Regions from separate parts of the Homo sapiens genome. Here region 1 is linked to region 2. The links come from fine-mapping of genetic effects on gene expression. A gene starts in region 2. The other region holds a variant in brackets. All regions are shown on one strand. Distances are from middle to middle.

Region 1 (2,935 bases), 690 kb before region 2:
AAAAAATATATATGGCAAGAATAAATACGAATAAATACAGCAATAGAACACAGAAATCTACATTATTTTTTAGTGGAAGAGAGCTCTTAAAAATCTCTTATGGAACTTACCATATGGGAACCTGAGGAAAGAAAAAAACTCCATCTGAATATTCACTCATTATTAAGCAATCCATTGTTTATTCTCTGACTTCTTATTGTTTAGTTCACTGCTTTTTCAGAAAGTAGCCTGATATTGAAGCTTTGTGAAATACTATAAGATATACAATATATATGTCATGCATATATTTAGGAGTACCTAGAAGTAAAACTTAGACAAAAGCAGTTACATATATACATATACACGTTTCTTGTTAAAAATGCAAAATATAAATCAATTCAAAAACAAATAAAGATATACACGCAAACTTATGACAAACATATTAAGAAAGAAGGAACTGAACAAGAGACCAGTAATTCATTCTCTTTCATTACTGGATGAATGTCTCCAGGATGGAAAGGAGGTGACTTGATCAATTTCTAGGATGTAGAACAGCTGTAAAGAGTAGCAAGATTATAGCTCCCACCCTTACAATAAAAAATAGCCAAACAATCTGAAAATTAATTATTTTTCAAGCCCAGTGAAGAACTGAAGGCACAGACCAATAAACGTGCAAAAATTAGTGGAATGACTTGTACCTTCAGGGAGACAGAAGACATGAGCATTTGCTTTTCTGAAATAGATGCAGCTAGACACGAGTAAAGAGTTTAGCTTCAAGGGTTGACAAATTGGTGAAGGTCAAGTGTGGGCTGACAGAATATTATGAATAAACAGAGGAAGCCCACACACTCTTGCATTTTTTTTCCCTCAGAACCCACCTTGGTCAGTCATACAAAAGGAGAGAGGGAGCACTAAGAAAGTGAACGTTCTGGAGGAGACCTGAGGAGAGAAATAGCAGCTGCTATGGATGAAGCACACAACTTGCATGGATCCTGATATGGTTAGACTTTGTGTCCGCACCCAAATATCATCTTGAATTGTAATCCCCAGGTGTTTACAAAGAGACCTGGCAGGAGGTGATTGGATTATGGCAGTGGTTTCTCCCATGCTGTTCTCATGATAGTGAATTGTCACAAGATCTGATGGTTTTATAAATGGTAGTTTTTCCTGTGCTGACACACACTCTCTACATGCCTTTGCTTCTCCTTCACCTTCTGCTATGATTGTAAGTTTCCTGAGGCTTCCCCAG[G/C]AATGCAGAACTGAGTCCATTAAATCTCTTTTCTTTATAAATTACACAGTCTCAAGCAGTTCTTTATAACAGCTTGAGAAGGAATGAATACAGACCTTTTTCCCCTAATTCTACCATGGTAAAAACATCTTAATTTTGGGGGAAGGGGAGAGAGGCATAAACACTGTCATCTTAAGACACTAATTAAGATTCACTGCAGCTGAGAAAAATGAAAGAGGAAAAATAAATTTTAAAGCAGAAAGGAGGAGCAGAAAGACAGACAACATCCAGATCTACAGTCAGGGAATGATAGGAGAATGGAATGGAATGCCTAAGACTAAGGCTTAATGTGAACAACAGAGAAACCTCCCACCTGCTGCCCACCACTGCCAAGCTGGCAATTCTTGAGTAAAACCTAACAATGGATTCTTCTGGTAGAGGACTAGCCGAGGAACAACTCATGCAAAGAATTTTTTCTCTGAAGTACAGAGGAAAGGAGCAACCTAATGTTGTAGGTGGAACAGACATTGTTCCAACTTAATTACAAGGTATTCCTACACCAGCCCCACCTAAAATACATTTTATTACTACGGAGATGTGAAGGTCATGGTACACTGATGGTAACTATAGCAACAGCAAACTTCAACCCAAACCCACATCCCAACTAGATTAGCTCAAAGTCTCGAACTAAAGGCCTATATGATCTACAAGGTGTATTTACTTCCAGGCATAAAAATCACTTACTGCAGTCTCTGTTGTCCTACACAAAGAGTACAGCAGACTTTAACAAAATTGAGTCATACCAAAAAAGCAAGAAGAAACATATGCTCAAGAGACAAAGAAATAATCACAACCATAATCAGATATGACATAGAACTCACAACTGAAAGATAATTTAAAGTAACAATGATTATTATGTTAAAGGAGATATACATGTATGCGTAAATATATAAATAATTGTGTTTATAGTATATGCTTATATATACTATATAAATAAATATAATGAAATAATTATGATTACTATGTGAAGGAAATATATATGTAGAAAGATATAGATATACATTCATATATTTATATATATTTATACTATATATATTTATACTCTCTATATACCCTTATATACAGGTATGGATATGATCCCTATCTTTTATACATATATATAGTATAAAGATATATATCCTTATAATATAGGGATATATATGATTCCTATCATATATATCCCTACATATATGAATGTGTATCTATATCTTTATACATATACATCTCCTTTACATAATAATCATTATTTTATTATGATTATTAAAAGATAGTGATGTTACAATGCAAAATTACACAGGTAATTTAAATAAGGAAAAGTTACAATGCAAATTTACACAGGTAACTTCAACACAGATATGTAAACTATAAAAAAAGACCAAATCAAAATTTTAGAAATAAAAAAACACAAAACAGATTAAAAATGCCCTTTTCAGTACAGTACACACAACACAATTGAGGGAAAAAAATCATTAAAATTGAACTCAGGCCAACAGGTTACTCCAACTAAAACACAAAGGGAAAAAAAAAAGAGTGAAAAAAGTTAGAACAAAGCACCCAAGAGCTGAATAATGATCTATTATATATGTAATTGAAATCCCAGATGAAATGAAGTAGAATAAGGAGAAATACTGGAAAAAATAATGGCCTGTAGCTTCCATAAGTTAATGATAGACACTAACCCACAGAAAT
Region 2 (2,935 bases):
TAAATAGAATCCTGGCCAAAGTCTAGGTCTCAGTAGGTCCGGTAGGTCTGTGGATTCCTCCAGAAGTCATTTCCCTAGGCCTTGAATGCGTAATTGGGATTGACTCCTTGGCTGTTGGAGTAAGCTCCACCTTTCTCATTTTCTAATTCAAACAAGAATTATTATAGTGGGGAAGGCAAAATGGAAGCTTCTGAAACTGCACCCCCACACTCCCACCTTCTTCACTGCTATCCTCTCTCCATCCCTTGATAAGATGGTGAATAAAAAACATTGTATTCGGTGGCAGGGGAGGAGTGAGGAATGACAGAAATTGGGGCTACTCAAAAGGACTTTAAGACTGCAGAAGGTGGTGGTTCATATCATAGCACCATTTAATTCATGAGTCTGATCACTGCAAAATCCAAGTGAATCTTAGAATATTTCTAGCCTAGTGAAAAATCAACTAATAACCCCAATGATGGGCTACTGTGCTTGATGTGTTATCTTTGTTAGTGCAGATTAATACAGTGTCAGGTACATGGTGTTCAGTCAGACCACATTTCACATTCTTTCCTACCTCAATCAGGAAAGATCAGAAACCATTTGCATTTGCATGGAACAGACAATGACACATGTTTACATTTTTTTTTTAATTTTTTGAGTTGGAGTCTCACTCTGTTGCCCAGGCTGGAGTGCAGTGGTGTGATCTCGGCTCACTGCAACCTCCCAGGTTCAAGTGATTCTCCTGCCTCAGCCTCCCGAGAAGCTGGGATTACAGGTGCCCACCACCACACCCAGCTAATTTTTGTAATTTTTAGTAGAGACGGGGTTTTGCCATGTTGGCTAGGATGGTCTCAAACTCCTGACCCCAGGTGATCCTCCCACCTTGGGCTCTCAAAGTACTGGGATTACAGGCATGAGCCACCTGTTACATAGTCCTGTGGCTATGTTAACTCCTACTCTTTATCATAATATAATCAGATGAGATCTAGGCTGTCTGGACACTTGGCACAATATCATGTTATCAGGCAGGATGAACAAGAAGTGGCTAGTATAATGGAGGCCTTGGTAAGACACATTCAACACAGAATATGAGAGTTAAAGTTGGTAATGATTGAGGCAACTTCTAGTAAAGTTTTTAGGGGTCCAGCTTGACCAGGGACATATAAGGAAATCTTTTCCAAAAGACAAATTGCTACATTTTGCCTGTTCTATCAAAATTCTTGTGGGACTCTTTGGCTTATGGTGGCAACATATTGCACATTTAGGCATGTGCTGCAGCCCATATACTGGATGGCATGAAAGGCTCCCTGCTTTGAGTGGAGCCCAGAGCAGGAAAGGGTCTGCAGGAAGGAAGGGCTGTGATATGAGCTGCCCTGATGCTTGGGTCATGTGATTGGTAAACTCCACGGTGCTGGAGGTGTTAGTGAGAGGAAAATATGCAATATAATGTGTATGGTGTGTGTGTATGTGTGTGAGAGAGAGAGTGTGTGTATGTATGTGTGTGGGTGAGCATCATAGCACCAATGTCTGGGGTTGTGAAGAAAGATCATGCCATCTGTAACAGAGACTTATACACCTATTAAAACAGAGTGCCTAATGTGTTACTGGGGCCCCATAGAGACAGAATTCTTGACTATAGGATATCAAGTAACAATGTATCTGGAAGTGTCCATTATGAGCCAGGTTCCGTCAGACCCACAGAGTCATCAAGTCAGGTATGTCCAGCAGAAGTCCATCGTGAGATCAGATTGTGCATCTGGGGTCAAGCCTAAACAAGACCAGAAGTCCTAAGGTAACTGCATGAGCAGGTGGTGCAGATCCCCATGTCACCCACCACTGCAGCACCAGCACCCCTCCTTCAGATCATGCCCCAGACAGTATGTGGGTCCCACGTGACCAGCTAAAGGAGGAGAAAAAACCTGAGCATGTTTAATGTACCAGTCAGCACAGGGTGTGGAGGCAAGTTAAAAATGGGCAGTGGTTTCATGACACTTGGGATGTGGGGGGGACTTGAGGAACTGGTAAGGAAAATCATATCAATGGACAAAGCTCAGAGTCATGCACCTGTTCCCTATTTCATGTGGAGGACACAGTGGCTTGGAATGGGAACATATATATACTCATGGGTGGAAGCGAATCGTCTGAAAAGCTGGTCAGGGACCTGGAAGGAGGACTGAAAAATTGCAGACAAGAATGTTTGGTGGAGAGGAATGTGTGTGAACCTATAGGAGTGGGCAAAATATGTGAAGATTTTTGGCTCTTGTATTCATGAACACTAGAAAGCATCAATCACAGAAGAGGCACTGAACAACAGAGTAGACAAAATGACTAGGCCAGTTGACATTAGGCAGTCTCTGAGCTGATGTGACTGACACATGAACGGAGCAGCCACAGTGCAGAGATAGAAGCCATACATGGGCTCCGTCTCACACCTCAGTACTGACGCCTGTGCAAGTCTAACCTGTCAGCAACAGGGAAAAACACCGCTCCCAATACGACATCTTCAAGGAGGTGATCTTCAATCGTGATTTTCCTTGTGGGAGGGGATCCATGTGCATCCGACATATGTGGCAGCACATTCGACATTTTCTTGAAAAATCCTGGGAATTGTAGTGCCTTCAGTGCCCAGATTACCCTCAATGTTGGGTCATTTCCTGGCTTCAGCCTCATGCCTATTAAGTTGAATGAGCACAGTCGTACAAATTACTCAGGAAAACCAACCAATGAACTAAGGCTTTTTGTTTTGTTTTGTTTTGCTTTTTTGATACGGAGTCTTGCTCTGTTGCCCAGGCTGGAGTGCAGTGGAGTGCAGTGGCACGATCTTGGCTCACTGCAACCTCTGCTTCCTGGGTTCAAGTGATTCTTCTGCCTCAGCCTCCCGAGTAGCTGGGACTACAGGTGCGTTGCACCATGCCTGGCTAATTTTTGTATTTTTAGTAGAGACAGGGTTTCA

Direction of the effects. Alleles are on the strand shown, and positions count from the first base shown. SD is a standard deviation of normalised expression in the study named.
For the expression in testis of the gene that starts at base 1,709 in region 2, G is the low allele of the variant in region 1 and C is the other (large effect, 0.78 SD a copy in GTEx).

What was found. PIP is the estimated chance that this variant, and not a neighbour inherited with it, causes the effect. A credible set is the group of variants that fine-mapping cannot tell apart.
Region 1: its variant is the best candidate, but not a certain one, in a credible set for the expression of FABP12 in testis (GTEx, PIP 0.63).

The regions. Positions count from the first base shown.
Region 1 is chr8:82,217,980-82,220,914 of GRCh38, reverse strand. No RefSeq gene overlaps it. Among named protein-coding and RNA genes, the nearest start is that of LINC02839, 59 kb to the right of the region's middle. The variant G/C (reference allele first, on the strand shown) is at 1,229.
Region 2 is chr8:81,532,641-81,535,575 of GRCh38, reverse strand. FABP12 (fatty acid binding protein 12) reads left to right here and starts at 1,709. Exons shown (of 5, transcript NM_001105281.6): 1 at 1,709-1,774. The region is part of intron 3 of LOC101927118 (a long non-coding RNA gene); the gene reads right to left.